Regions from separate parts of the Homo sapiens genome. Here region 2 is linked to region 1. Evidence: fine-mapped expression QTL. Tissue or cell type: whole blood. Region 1 holds a variant in brackets; the other region holds the start of a gene. All regions are shown on one strand. Distances are from middle to middle.

Region 1 (8,187 bases):
CCAGCAGAACACACAGATCCACTTGAAGGTTTTCCGTTGTCAAATGTGACATCTGAGGATGTGAAAACAGTAATGACTACAACTGGTTGAAAAACATTGAATAAAGGCATATTTTATTTTATTGCACTTCACTTTATGATGCTATGCAGATGCGGATGTTTTTTACAAATTGAGGTTTTGTGGCAGCTGTGTGTTAAGCAAGTCTATAGGTGCCAACTTTCCACAACAGGTGCTCATCTCATGTCTCTGTGTCACATTTTGGCAATTATCACAATATTTCAAACTTTTTCATATTTTATCTATTATGGTGATCTGTGATCAGTGATCTTTGATGCTATTATTGTAGTTTTTGGGGGGTGCCATGAACCACGTTCATATAAGATGATGAACTTAATCAATAAATGTATGTTTTACCATGACTGCTCTACCAACCAGCCATTCCTCATCTCTCTCCTGCTTCTCAGGTCTCCCTATTCCCTGAGATACAATAATATTGAAATCAGGTCAGTTAGTAACTCCACAATGGTCTCTATGTGTTCAAGTGAAAATAAAAGTCACACATCTCTCACTTTAAATCCAATTCTAGAAATGATTACATTTAGCATGGAAGGCGTGTTGACAACCAAGGTAGCAGAGTAGCACTTTTACTTTCCAAGAACTTTTCTTTTGCACCAAACTTGACCTTTGCAGCAAACAGCCAACTTGTGAATGCAAAGGAAAAGTTCTTGAAGGAAAGTAAGTGCTACTCGGGTGGACACACAAACGCTAAGTAAAACAGCCCTATTGCTGGTATGGAAAAAGTTTGAGTGGACTCAATAGAAGATCAAGCCAGGCGCAACATTCCCTTAAGCAAAAGCCTAATCCAGAGCAACACCCTAACTTTCTTCAATTCTACGAAGGCTGAGAGAGATGAGTAAGCTGCAGAAGAAAAGTTGGAGCTAACAGAGGTCGGCTCATGAAGCTTAAGGAAGGAAGCCATCTCCATAACATAAAAGTACGAGGTGAGGCAGCAAGTGCTGATGGAGAAGCTGCAGCGTTATCCAGAAAAGCCAGCTAAGATCACTGATGAAGAGGGCAAAAGAAACATATTGTCTGTGGACAAAAAGCAGTCTTATATTAGAAGAAGATGCTCTTCAGAACTTTCATAGCTGGAGAAGAAAAGTCAGTGCCTGGCTTCAAAGCTTCAAGCAATAGCTGACTCTTTTGATTGGGGCTATTGCAGCTAGTGACCTAACATTGTAGCGAATGCTCATTTGCCATTTTGAAAACTCTAGGAAGAATTATGCTAAATCTGCTCTGCCTGCACTCTTTAAGTGGAACAACAAAACCTGGATGACAGCACATCTGTGTATAGCATGAATTGCTGAATATTTTAAGTCCGCTATTGAGACTTAATGCTCAGAAAAAAAAAGATTTCTTTCCAAATATTATCACTCACTGACAGTGCATCTAGTCACTCAAGAGCTCTGACAGAGATGTACAATGAGATGAATGTTATTCAACACAACATCCATTCTGTAGCCAATGAATCAAGGAGTAATTTCAACTTTCAAATCTTATTACTTAAGAAATACATTTCGGCCAGGTGTGGTGGCTCATGCCTGTAATCCCATCACTTTGGGAGGCTGAGGCGGGTGGATCACGAGGTCAAGAGATCGAGACCATCTGGCCAACATGGTGAAACCGCGTCTCTACTAAAAATACAAAGAAGAAGAGCTGGTTGAATGATGCTGTCACCATGAGGAAGTAATCAGGCAAACCTAGAATGTGGAACAATGTATATTCTATGCACATTGTTCTATGGGACAATTACACCAGGTTTTTTCAGTTAAGTCAATGGGAAGGGAAAAGAAGAGGGGAGAGGGGCTTGCTACAGATGTACAAGGGGGCATGACAACTGAATGTAACATGTGAGTCTCGCTTGGATCTTGATTTGGAAAAAAAAATCATCTTAAAAAGACATTTATTGGCCAGGCACAGTAGCTCACATCTGTAATCCCAGCACTTTGGGAGGCTGAGGCGGGCGGATCACCTGAGGTCAGGAGTTCGAGACCAGCCAGACCAATATGATGAAACCCTGTCTCTACTAAAAATACAAAAATTAGCCAGGCGTGGTGGCAGGCGCCTGTAATCTCAGCTACTCGGGAGGCTGAGACAGGAGAATCACTTGAACCTGGGAGGCAGAGGTTGCAGCAAGCCAAGATCACGCCATTACACTCCAGCCTGGGCAACAAGAGCAAAACTCCGTCCAAAAAAAAAAAAAAAAAAACAAGTTTATTAAACAGTCAATGAACTTTGAATATGGATGGACTGGGAATTAGATATTAATTAATTATTGTTATGAATTTAGGTGTGATAGTGGTAACTGGTTATATTTCCCTCTTTTAGGGACACATTGAAATACTAGGTGGTAAGTGCCATTTTGCCTGGAATTTGCTTTAAAATTCTTCAACAAAAAAGGGGTGCAAACAGGTGATTCAAGTGGGCAAAATGTTGATTATTTTAAAATCTGGATGGCTGCTGCTATGGATTGAATATGACTTGTATGTTCCCCACCAAATATTATGTTGAAATTTGATCCCCAGTGTGGTGATGTTGGGATGTGGGGTGCAGTGGGAGGAGTTCAGGTCATGGGTTATGAATGGTTTGGTGCTGTTCTCAGGGTAGTGAGTAAGTTCTCATGCTGTCCCGAGATGGATTGGTTTTGAGGGGATGGATTAGTTCCCAAGGGAGTGTGTTGCTCTAAAGCCAAGAGGCCCCCCAGGTTTGATCCATCTTTGCACCTGCCTGCCTGCCATTTGACCTTCTGCACCATGTTTTGATGGAGCACAAAAGTCCTCACCAGAAGCAGAGCAGATGCCAGCACCATGCTTCTTGCACAGGCTGCAGAACATGAACTAACTCAACCTCTTTCCTTACAAACCACCCAGCCACAGGTACGCCTTTATAGCAACACAAAACAGACTAAGCCAGCAGGAATATGGGGTTTTATCACACTCCTCTCTCCATTTGTGTGTATTTGAAATAAAGAGTTTTTAAGGAAAATGTAAAATTGTATGTGAGGTTAAAAAAGAACTGCTGCTCCTATGATGACGAATTTTGGGTTAATTCACCTGCTGTGAAGAGATGAAAAAAGAAAAAACGAAGACTTCACTTTGCTTCTCCTCTATATTTTTAGCAGTCTTTGGAGATTATTCTTACTGGGGAAGAAATTGCACTGAGTCAAAGGCATTTCCTTCTCAAGTGCTAATACGTTACCACACATTACCTCTTACACAGTTCCCTCCTCAAAGAAACATAAACATAGCATAACAGAAGAGAACAGCCTTTTGCGCCATTTTTCAGACACTGGCTCTCCTTGTCCCCTGAGGTTTTCTTCTTTCTGAGTGCACATTCCAGATGGCTGTGCTTTGAAATCCCACACCTGCTCCAACCCTGATCCTCTCCTAGAAACTCCTCTGAGGAGGCATCTCTGGTCTCCCAACCAGGGTGACCAACTCTCTTCTCTGTCCCTTCGTTTCCTTGCATACCCTCCCCGCAGCACTTAACATGTGATATGAAACGCATTTGTGTCTCTTCCCTGGACCATAAGCTCCCTTAGGGCAGGGACTCAGCCTTTTAAACATTTCTTTCCAGTGTCTAATATCTTCTGGCAAATAGCAGACTCTCAGTAGCTGCCAAATACATGCATGCTCTGGTACTATCTCCTGTAAGCCTCGGTAATCTTAACAAGGTTTCCACTATGAAAAATCTCTGTTCTTAATTTCCTTTATTAAGTATTAAGTTTTGGATGTTTCTGTCTAGCAAAAAGCCTGTACTCTGAACCAATAATTTAATCATCTACCAGTTTTGTTGATTAGAAGATAATACTTGTCTCTCAGGGTTTCTAAGGCGCCGCACCCAGCCAAGAGTTTTTATTCCTTGGCATGTGTCCAGGAAATTTCTAGTTAAGAATAGGCTTATGATAATCCGGTCTAAGATCTAGAAGATTTACAAGTCATAGGAGTTTTAATTTATGGGATTCTGGAAAGTGAACTAGTTGCATAATTTGTATATATATCCATTTTCCTGAACTATTTTTAAAAACATCTTTCTTGACATGTGTCACATACCATAAAATTCAATCATTTAACATATACAATTCAATGTTTTAAAATATATTAATATATTTGTGCAAACATCTCTATAACTTTAGAGCATTTTCATCACCAGCCCTCCTCCAAACACCCTGCTGCCATCACTGCCCATTCTCTCTCCCCTCTTTGGCCCTAGGTGCCCACTAATGTACTTTTTGTCTCTGTAGATTTGCCTACTCTAGACATTTCTCATAAATAAAATCATACAATATGTGATCTTTTATGACTTGCTTTTTTTATTTAGTATTTACAAGGATCATCCATGATGTAGCCTGTGTCAGTACTCCATTCTTTCTTCTGTTGCCAAATCCTATTTCATTGTATAGATATACCTCATTTTGTTGATCCATTCATCAGATGATGAACATTTGGGTTGTTTCCAATATTTGGCCATTATATATGATGCTGCCATGAAAATGGCAAATTAAATTTTTGTGTGGACTTAAATTTCCATCTCTCTTGGACATATATAGCTAAGAGTAGAATT[G/T]CTGGGTCCTGTGGTACCACCATGTTTAACTTTATGAGGAGCTGTCAAGCTGCTTTCCACGGTGGTTGCATCATTTTACATACCCACCAACAATATATGAGGGTTCCAATTTCTCCACATCCTCACCACTTACTATCATTCCTTTTTTAATTACTGTAGCTATCCTAGTGAATGTGGTTTTGATTTGCATTTGCCTAATGTCAAACAGATGTTGAGCATCTTTCCACGTGCTCATTGGCCATTTATATAACTTATTTGGAGAAATGTCTATTCAAATACTTTGCCCTTTTAAAATTGTGTTGTCTTTTCATTGTTAAATTATAAAAGTTCTTTATATATTGTGAATTAAGGCTCTTATCCGATATGTGATTGTCATAGTTAAGAAATCATTGATTAGCCCAAGGTCACAAAGATTTAATCTTGTCTTAGTCTGTTTTCTGCTGCTATAACGGAGTATCACAGACTTGATAATTTATACACAAAAGATTATTTGGCTCACAGTTTTGGAGGCTGGGAAGTCCAAAGGCATGGTGCCAGCATCTGCTTAGCCATCTGGTGAGGGCTTTCTTGTTGCATCACACCATGGCTGAAAGCAGAAAGGCAGGTGACAAATGAGACAGGGAGAAAATGGAGGTCAAACTTATGCTGGAGTCCTCTCCCTCAATAACTAATCCACTACCCTGATAACAGCATTAATCCGTTCACAAGGGCAGAACCCTCATGATCTACACCTCTTAAAGGTCTTACCTCCTAGTACTACCCCAATGGCAATTAAATTTGACCATGAGTTTTGGTGGGACATTCAAACCATAGCAAATCCCATGTTTTCTTTTAAGAGTTTTGTAATTTTAGCTCTTTCATTTCAGTTGTCAGGGAAGCTACAGATTACCTGTCCCTGTGTAAGTTCTCAGTTGAGACAAGCCCCTGTAACAAAAGCAGATCAACAAGAAAAAAACAAACAAGTTTATTAACACATACAGTGAACACCATGCAGGAAAAACCTCAATGAAAAGTAACTCAAAGCAGTTGCTTAGAACTCTGGCTTGTATCGCATCTTCAACAAAGAACAATAAATTTATAGAGAAATGACAGGACAAAGGAAGGCAATTTCCTTTCGGGGTAGGAAACAGTGGGAAAATAACTATATGGGGGTAAACTAATGAAGTAACGTTTGTTTGCAGATTCTTCTGGTGCTTTCTCTGGGTGAATAGAGTCTAGAGTTGTGTCCAGTAAACGAGAATTTATATCCTACCTTGAGGCAGAAAAGGGGAAGACAGCGAGAGCTTTTTCCATTTGCTGCTTCTTAATTGCCTTCAGTCACAAAATAATTGATAATTGTTTTAATATAGTGTGAAATAGTAGTTCAAGTTCATTCTTTTGCATGTAGAGATCCAGTTGTCCCAGCAGCATGTTTGGAAAGACTTCTTTTCCCCATTGGAATTGTCTCGGCAATCTTATCTAAAATAAATTTATATACATGTATATATTTATATACATATATACACATGTATATATGTGTGTGTGTGCAGGATTTTTAAAAAAACTTTTATTGGGGTGTGATTGACATACAAAAAGCTGTACATATTTAATGTATGCAACTTGATGAGTTTGAGGCTAAATATACATCTGTGAAATCATTACCACAATCTAAACATACCCATCACCTCCAAAACAGTTTCCTCCTACCCTCTATATTTATAATTATTTGTGTATGTGTGTGTGTGCATGTGTGTGTGTGTAGTATGTGATAAAACATAAGATCTACCCACTTAGCAAATTTTTAAGATGTAATACAGTTTTGTTAACTATAGGTATTATGTTATACAGTAGATCTCTAGGACTTACTCATCTTTTATAACTGAAACTTTGCAACTTTTGGCTAATAGCTCCCTATATCCCCCTTTCCCCAGCTCCTGACAACCACCATTCTACTCTCTGCTTCTACAAGTTTAACTATTTTAGATTCCTTATGTAAGTGGCATCAAGTAGTACTTGTCTTCCTGTGTCTAACTTGTTTCACTTAGCATAAAGTCCTCTAGGCTTATGCATGTTGTCACAAATGGCAGGATTTCCTTCTTTCTTAGGGCTAAACAATATTCCACTGTATATATATAACACATTTTCTTTACCCATTCATCCATGATGAATATTTAGGTTACTTAGGTTCATGCTGCAATGAACAGGAGTGCAAATGCTCTTTGAAATCCCAATTTCGATTCCTTTAGATATATACCCGGTAGTGGGATTGCTGGATCACATAGTAGTTCTATTTTTAAATTTTTTGAAGACCCTCCATAATGTCTTGCATATGTAGGCTGGCTTCTAGACTGACTGTATTCCATTGATCTATGTGTCTATCCTTATGTCAGTATCATGCTGGCTTGACTACTGTAACTTTGTAGTAAGTTCTGAAGTAAATGTGAGTCCTCCAATTTTGTCCCTCTTTTTAAGGATTCTTTTGATTATTCTGGGTCCCTTGCTTTTCCATATTACTTTTAAAGTGCATATATCTTGTTCTTCTGAAATTATTTCATTTATGTGTTATTTCTGGTTATATCATCCAAGTTTGTTTATTTTTTTCACTCATGATTGCTTTATCTTCATTTCTTTCTCTTTAAGATTTTTAAAAATCTTTCAGACAATGAATTTGGGTTCCAAAGTGACTAGCTTGTCTTTTAATATTTTAGCTAAAAGCATTTTAAATTTGTGTGGTATATGTGTATATTTTGTGACTGAATCTTCTTACATCCTCTTATTACAATTTCATTTAATAAGTGCTTCACCGAAATTTAATTAACATAACATAAAATTCACCCTGATAAAGTGTAAAATTCAGTGTTTTTAGTAAATTCACTCAGCTGTTGAACCATCTAATTCTAGACTGTCTAACTTCAGAACATTTCATAACCCTCCAAAGAAAATCTTGCCATCTTAGTTTTTGAAAATTTTTTGGCAAGCTTCATTCTTGACAACTTCTTCTTTTTTTTACTTTGGTAAAACCACCACCTTGCCTTGAGCTATTTGCTCATTCAAAACTAAAGTTTATTTAGGCCACTTGATATGATTCACCTTGTCTCTAGAGAAATCTTAAAACTTTTTCAAGGAAGTGGTCAATTATTTACATAAACTTGAAAAGGCTTTGCTTCTCATCACTTCAAACACAAGGCTTTGAGAATTACCCATTTGATTTGCTACTTTGCAAATTCACAAATAACTCTATATTTGAACATTTAAATTGTTTGAAGTGTTTGGGGAAACAATTTACTTCCTGGCTCTATATCCTTTTTAGTTATCTCTTCCTTTTATGTAAGAACTGCATTAATAGATGACTTTCAAGAATATTATGAGAAAAAATAGTGAAAGTAATTTAAGCAAAGTATATTCTGTACTCAATTCTACATCAACAATGAACGAACCTCTTGTCCACAACCATTTAAAAACACTCCATTGAACTCAGATGTAAAAGTTTACTGAGTTATGTCAGTGGAAACTTTGCCAAGAACAAACAAAACAATGAGGCCATAACTGGAGAATGTTCTGTTCTCTATTTTTTTTTTTGAGACA
Region 2 (8,187 bases), 46 kb after region 1:
AGGTGGTCATAGACATTAGTTCAGAAACTCAATGCTGACGATGATTCAGGCTTTCTAACTTCCTGTTCTTCCACTGGTAGCTGTTGACTTTTCATCTTCAATCTTGTTGCCTCATGGTTGCAAACTGCCAAGATCTGCTGCAGATCTAGGCGTCACTGGATCTACATTCAAGGCAAGAAGATTGGAAAAGGGCCAAGGCCAGCAAACTCTCCCATTGCATCTGCCCCTTCTATGAGAAAGGAAAAGTTCTCACAGAATGCTTTCCAATCCTCTTCCCCATTATACACCTGATGACCACCACACACACACATGCCTCACAGACTTCTGCTTGTGTTTCGCTGACCAAAACTACATCATATACCTACACTTAGCTGCCAAAAAGGCTGGGAAAGTGAGTAATGAGCCTGTCTAGCCTCTGCAGTAGGGAGGCAGCAAGATAGAAGGGGACCGAAAAGAGCTGTTAGCAGTCAGCTAATGAGTAGTATCTGCCACAGTCACCACGCAGCATGTGGCATCTACCCTAGGCAGTGCTCTAAGACAAGCCAACTACTAGAATACTTGACTGTCTATGGATAAACATCTTCAAGCCAGGGGTTGGTCTGATACAATCGGATGTCAGCATGAGAGCTAAGAGGAGGGTTGAGTGCAAGGCAAGAGGATAGTGCTTTGTTGAGTACCAGTATGATATCCAAATATCTCTCTAAATTCTTATCAGTGACCCAATTATAGCTTAGCCAGCCATAAATTCAACTATACCTGCTTCAGTCCCACACCTCTTTACAAGCTTGTTTTGTTCATCATATATTTATTTAATAAGTGGCCACAGACATTGGTTCAGCTGCTCAATGCTGACAGTGATGATTCAGGATTACATACAATTGATGATTCAGGATCATCAATATTCCATAAATATTAATGGAGTAATAGGCACTTGGCTAGGTGCTCGGGGTCTGACAGTGAAGAAAACAAATTTATTTTTTAGAGGAAGAGGGAGACTACTGAAACAAAATTTTCTACGTGTGTATATACATATTTTATGTATGCACACACACACGGATGCATTTCATTAAATCTCAGATTAAGTCCCTGTTTACGCACCTATAATCGTGTTGCTCTCCTTGGTAACAATTACTACAATTTCAGTAATTATTTGTGAAATATATATATATATAAAATGCATATATTTAACACATACAATTTATTCATATTTAATTCAAATTTAATAGATATATTAAATTTCCAGTAGAATCTCCAGATAGTAGTAAGTACTATGGAATAAACAAAGTTAAATAAGGGCCAGTGTAAAGGCATGGGTAGAGTGTGAGAGGGCAAGAGTATTGGCTATAATTTACAGACTAATCAGCGGAATTTAAACTATATGCTTCAGTTACAAATCTTCACGCTGTCTCCTTTAAAGGGAAGCTGGCAGACATTTCTGCTTTGGAGAAAAGAGGAAGGAAATGCACTGTGCTCAGAGCCAAAATGCACAGTTTGTTCCACACACACAGGCTCTGTTCTCATTGGATCATATTTCTAGCTTCTTAAATTGTTTTATTTGGCCTATTAACTTGAAAGGCAGGTGAGTATGGTCTTCAAAATGTAGCCTTGCTCCTGAGCAGCAGCACTTCAGTATACACTTGGCTTTGGAATGATCTACGCTCCACCCCAATTTGTTTTCTTCATTTTAAAAACTAATCTGAGGCTCTAGTGGGGACCAACGTATACTTGGATATTCCCCAGCCATTAGGCATTGGAAATTTATCAAGGAAAGCTGGCACCGCTCATTTGTTTCTGTGTTAGCTGTATGAGATTTTTATATGGGATTTTAAAATACAGTTTATTGCTCTTCTTCCTACCTCTCTTATTAGCCGGTGGCCACCCCCATCTTTTAACTTTATTCAGGCTAATTTTACCTTATCCTTCAGGTCACAACATAATGGTAACTTCCTTAAAAAAGAATTTCCCTAAATCCAGACACAGTGGCTCACACCTGTAATCCCAGCATTTTGGGAGCCTGAGGCAGGAGAATCATTTGAGCCCAGGAGTTTGAGACCAGCCTGAGCAACACAGCAAGACCCCAGCTCTATAAAAAATTTAAAAACTAGCCGGGCATAAGGCCAGGCGAGGTGGCTCACTCCTGTAATCCCAGCACTTTGGGAGGCCAAGGTGGGCGGATTGCTTGAGCTCAGGAGTTTGAGATCAGCCTGGGCAACATGGTGAAACCCCATCTCCACAAAAGACACAAAAAAATGCCTGTGGTCCCAGCTACTTGGGAGGCTGAGGTGGAAGGATGGCTTGCGCCCGGGAGGTGGAGGTTGCAGTCAGCTGAGATTGTGCCACTGTACCTCAGCTAGGTGATACAGTCAGACCCTGTCTCAAAAAAAAAAAAAAAAATTAGCCAGGCATGGTGGTGTACACCTGTAGTCCCAGCTATTTGGGAGGCTGGGGCAAGAGGATCATTTGGGCCCAGGAGTTTGAGGCTGCAGTAAGCTATGATCATGCCTCTGCACTGCAGCCTAGACGACAGAGTGAGACCCTGTCTCAAAAGAAAGAAAAAAGAAAAGAAAGACTTTCTTTAAAATGTAGACTAAGTTAAATTCCTGTTTATACTCCTTTAATCTCTTCCCATTGCTCTCCTTGGGAATGATGATCACGATTTCAGTACTTGTGTAATTCCTTGTTTAACAGCTATCTCCCTCAGTAGACAGTAAGCTCCGTGAGGGCAGGGGCCATGTCTGTCTTGCTCAGGTCTTTATCTCTGTGCCTGGTCATGTCAGTCACAGACAGTATCACTTGATAATATTCACCCAATTAATAAATATATTTAGTCTCCAAATGACTAACTAGCAAAGTCTTCAGAAGGATACGTAGGGTGGTGGGTGCTGTGATTGTGAAACTTGCCCAGATCCCTCTCAGGAACAGAAGACTGGGTTCTGTCCCCTTCCTGATGCTAGGAGGGCTGCCAGTAGACACCCTCAACCGTCAGCGTTCCTCTGGGGAATGCCTCCATGAAAGAAATGGACAGCCCCAAAATCATGACAGTTGGTATTCAATGACTAATCAGTGCTGGGCTTTAAGACCCAGCCCCTCATACCAACTCAAGACACCTTTACAAGGCCATCCCAACTCCAGAGCGCCCCTTGGGAGCCTTTACTGGGATGGCATCACAGATCAACTTCTTCCTCCGCTCTGCTTCCTCCACCTCCCCTTCACAGACGTTTATTCCAAGAGCACTCCCTAATCAATCAATGCCTTATACCTTAATCTCGACCTCAGAGTTTACTGCCAGGGTAACCCAGCCTGTGACAAGTACCACAAAAATGTTTACAAACTGGATATCATATTTTGTCCTACTCCATAGACGCCTAAACGGTAAAGATCAGTTATTTATCCTTGCATCCTTACAACGACTAGAAGGTGTCTTTCATATAGTGGACATCAGAAACACATCAAAGGAAATATTCTCCCTAAACTTAGTCTAGATTGAGCTAAATTCTTCTGATTCAAAGTGTGGTCCTGTTGAAAGGGGCACCAGCATCCCCTGTGCATTTTGTCCGAAATACAAAATCTCAAGACCCAACCTGAATTAGAACTACTGAATCCAAATCTGCATTTTATCAAGATCCCCAGATGGTTCACATGTATGTTGAAGTTTGAGAAGTACTGAGCTAAGAGATTTATTAATACAAGTAAAATGATCTGGCTGATAATACCTCTAGTTTATATAGTGTCTTTATAAGGATTTTCCCTCTTTAAAAATTTTCCTTAACACTAGTAATCATGCAGTCTTTCACTCAACAAATACTAATTGAGTGCCAAGTAAAGATGTCAGCTCTACGGAGCTTACATTTTAGAAGGAGAAGAAAACAAATATCAAGGTGTATATTATAGTGTACAGCAAGGTGAAAAGTGCCATGAAAAAACAGTAGGGCGGGGTAAGGAGGAGGAGAAGGTGTGTTGCAATTTAAAATTTTTAACAAAAGTTCATGATACTCAGAGAATTGAAACAGGTGAGATCATTAGACATTCGCATGTTTGAGCACAAGCGCTGAAGGACTTAGCAATGTGGCTGCAGTGGAATAGGAGAGATGCAAAATAACAGACAAACCCAGAGAGGTAAGAGAGCAGACCTCTTCATGAGAGGCTGCCTGATAAACTGATTTGACACTGAATTGCTGAGAAGGTAATGCAAATAGTTTTTTTCTCCAAGAACAAAGTAGTTCTTGGTCAAGCCGATTTGATTTGGGCTGTGGGAATCTGCACAAACCATTTCACTAGCTAAGTCTCAGGTTCCTCAAATGAAAAAGCAGGGACTGGAAATGGCTTTTGAAGTCTCATTCTCTTCTAAAAATGTCAGGCTCCAAGACAACCAGGTGAAGTCCAAGAGTTAGTAAAATAAGGATTGTGGCTCGGCTGTGGCCTAATGCAAACTTGCACAACCCCAGGAAACCGAAAAAAACTGGAAGAAGAATTGCAGAATGGGGTGCCAGGTTGAAAGACCTTAACCTTTGCACTCAAATTCCTCCCACACCCAGAAGTCCAGGTCCCGACCGCACGACGCCGTGCTCACTGCTGGGTGCTGCGCCTGAGTCCGCCTCCTGCGGCTTCCCGGACTTGACCCCGCCCACGCCCTGGTCCCGCCTCCTGCCGACGCCGGCACAGACCCCGGTGACGGAAGTGACGTAAGGCCGGGGCTGGAGGGCAGTGCTGGGCTGGTCCCGCAGGCGCTCGGGGTTGGAGCCAGCGACCGTCGGTAGCAGCATGGCTCTCCTCTTTCTCCTACCCCTTGTCATGCAGGGTGTGAGCAGGGCTGAGATGGGCACCGCGGATCTGGGGCCGTCCTCAGGTACCGTCGTTCGCGGCAGGGCTGCGGCCGGGTCGGGACGAGAGGGAGGGAGGGATCCGCCCCAGCCGGGAAGCCCCGCCCCGCTTCTCCGAGGTCGCCCTAGCCCGGGACCCCTGCGTCGGGCCCTGAGCGGGCGACGGGGACGCGAGGTGGGGTCGCGAGACTGGGGCTCCGTGGTTTGAACTCGTCGGTTGCCTTTCTCCTGCCTCTTCCCTGGTTGCCGCCACAACAAATCACGCCGCTTGTTTTTCCGACTCTTGTAATCCACTTTTAAATACGATTATGCGCTGCAGAAGGACGTTGCTGGTCAATGTGGGACAGCGTGGTCTCAAAGATTATAATATCGTCTTCTTACTGTACCTTTTTTTATGGTTAGATACGCAGATACTCACTAGTATGCTACGGTTGCCTGCAGTGTTCAGTGCAGTGACAGGCTGTACAGGTTCATGACCTAAGAGCAGTAGGCTGTGTCATCTGGGTTTGTCTGGGTTTCTACTGCCCGAAGAAATTGCCTAAGGGGACATTTCTCCATTTCTCAGAACGGATCTCCATCGTTAAGTGACGCATGACTGTGAGTGTCCTGATCAGCATGTGGCATCGTGGTCTCAGTTCGTGGCTTAAATACTTCTTTCTTAGCGGGGGTGGGGGGGGGGACTCAAAGTGCTTAGGGTAGGAAAGTATGCATTATGTCGCCAGCTGAGAAGTAAGTGGCAGCTGAGAAGTAAGTGGCAGTCCGTCTTAGGTCTCAGTCTGGAAGTGGTGGATTGCCGGCACTCACTAGCAGATTTGGCAGTAGGTCTCTTCGTACGGGTTTGTTCTTCGGAGCATTTTATTTCCACCTGCTTATTGACATTTCCTAGAAAACAAATGTTGAGGGTGGCTTTTCTGAAGTGCAGAGTAATTGTGATTACGAGCTCCAGAGAAAACAGTAAACCTTTTCAATTCAGTTTTCTTTTTTTTATTATGATTTATGATTCATAGGGACTTTGAAAGGTCCACGTTTTGGTTCTGTGTTCACAACAATCTTCTGGAGTAGGCGTTATTTGTCTCTCTCTTTATGGACGAGAAATTGAGTTACGGAGAGGCCTGCCCAACTGGCAGAGAGGTCATAGCCACTCAGTGGGGAGCTGCTCAATTTGGCTCCAGAGTCCAAGTTCTTAACTGCTCTTCTAGGCTCTAGTCAGTCATCCACATGGGCAGTTGCAGTACTTTGCGGTAAGAGCTTGCACTTAGGCACAGACTAGTGGAAAGCAAGGCGGGGTGCTTGTCTCTTTTAGGGAAGTCAGTGAAGACTTCACAAAGGTGACCCCAGTGTTGGAACCAGAGGTGCAGAGACTGAGGTGCAGAGGTGTGATAGCATGTTGAATTCGTGGAATATTAAGCGTTCTATTGTAAAGTGTGTGTGAGAGCTTACAAGGGGAGGAGATAGGTTAGGTGGAGAAGTAGGAACCAAATAATGAATTGCCATATTATGTGTACCAGCAAGAAACCTAGCTTTATTAACTTAAGCAAAAAGAGGAATTTATTGTCTCAGAAAAACCAGAGTTAAACAGAAAATTATAGATGCCAGCTGGGTCTCAAGAGGCTAGAACCAGGAACCCAAACTGCTAGGACTCTCCATTTCTTATTTCTGTCTGGGTATTGACAGCTTTCCACACTTGGCAGGAATCATGGATGCTGACAGCTTCTGAGTTTTGACATCTTGCAGCCTCCTCCATTCTAACAAAATGCCAGGGAAAGGCTCTGATTTGCCCAGCTAGGTTCAGGTGCCAGCTTGCATGGGAAGGACATTCTCGTAGAGGGTTGGGTTGGGTTACCAGAAGAAGCGGAATGGCGTGCCTGAAGTACAGGTGTTGAGCCAACAAAATAATACACCCACTATGCCTTGCTGAAGTCAGTCATTATTTACTAATGCTGACATCATTGGATTATCAATTACAAAGGGAAATGATTTTATGCAGGATCAGACATGCCATTTAGAAAGACCAGTCATCTTATAAAATAGTTTGAGGGTAAACACAAGGCCCATTAGGAGGCTGCTGCTTAAGTTGGAGTCGATAAGTAGTTTAAGTGGAGAAGAGGACAGTTAGCAGAACATTTAGAAGGAAGAGTTAGTAGGCCTCTGACTGGATGTCAGCAGAGAAAGAGGATAACGCTAGCGCAGGCATAGCGTTAAAGCAAGTGCCAGGCCCTTCCTTCTGAATACGGGGCCCTATGAGTGCACCGTGTGACCCCTGTGAGTGCACAATTTGCACGTCCTTGTAGCTTGCTCTGGGAGGAGGATTGCCTGTCTGCCTCCCGTGGGAAGATCAACTGCAGCCTTCTATATTCTGCAGAAACTTTTGAATTTGTCTCTGTACCTCTCGTTCTAAAACTGGGGTCACTTTTGTGAAGCCTTTCCTGACTCCCCTAGAAGAGACAAGCACCCCGGCCTTGCTTTTCATTAGTTTCAGTGAGCCCTCTTTTTAAAGTGCATTTCTAACACATTTCTCTAGATTTTTCAGTGCATTTCTCTAGATTTTGTTGTGTTCCCTGTTCTTTTAAAGTTAATTTAAAACACAAAATCTCCAAAGTAGGAAGAAACCAACAATGCTCTGGCTCTTGCTTAGCTTCCCAGCCTTATTCTTACTGTTGCTGGGCTTGACTCTATAGTTGAAGTTCATCTTAGATGAGAGGACCTGGTAAGAACAGGGAAGCAGACAAGTGAATATGGTGATATAGTCAGTCTCCAGGAAATCCAGGTGTTTAGGAATGTATTGTGTTACATTCATGGGCTTTCATTAATACTTCTTAAGTGAAAATAAAATCTGTGTGTGCCACTTAATCAGTAGTATTTCACTCTTCATGCACTTTTACACATAAAAGTAGTATATATTTTTAAGTGAATCAGGGTGTGCCACTGGCTTTCTTCATCCAGATGAGTGTCCCACTCTGAGTAATAGCTGAAGAGCTAGGCTGGACTTCACACCAACTGGAAGGCTCTTCACTGACCTTGTACAGTTTATCAGCTATGCTTCCTACTAATTATCTGACTTTAGGATAAAGCTCTGAGTACTGTTTAAATTTTTCACTATTTCTTTGGATTCTATAGTTATTTCAGAGATTCAAAATACACAGGATAATACTTTTTAATTATATTTATTGAATAGGGTATTAAATTTTCTTTTTCATTTTATTCTGATTCATAATTCACACAGACTTTGAAAGGACCATATTTTGGTTCTATCTAAAAGAAAACCTAGGCTGGGGGCAGTGGCTCATGCCTGTAATCCCAGCACATCGGCGGAAGGATCACTGGAGCCCAGAAGTTCAAGACCAGCCTGGGCAACATGGCAAAACCC

What was found. PIP is the estimated chance that this variant, and not a neighbour inherited with it, causes the effect.
Region 2: it holds the start of IFNGR1, and the variant in region 1 is fine-mapped to the expression of IFNGR1 in whole blood (TOPMed, PIP above 0.99).

What each region holds. Positions count from the first base shown.
Region 1 is chr6:137,261,482-137,269,668 of GRCh38, reverse strand. No RefSeq gene overlaps it. Among named protein-coding and RNA genes, the nearest start is that of IFNGR1, 46 kb to the right of the region's middle. The variant G/T (reference allele first, on the strand shown) is at 4,624.
Region 2 is chr6:137,215,902-137,224,088 of GRCh38, reverse strand. IFNGR1 (interferon gamma receptor 1) reads left to right here and starts at 4,704. Exons shown (of 7, transcript NM_000416.3): 1 at 4,704-4,846. The coding sequence starts at 4,762. RefSeq lists enhancers at 4,234-4,483, 4,334-5,064, 6,505-6,564 and silencers at 4,524-4,753, 4,794-5,013, 5,474-5,523.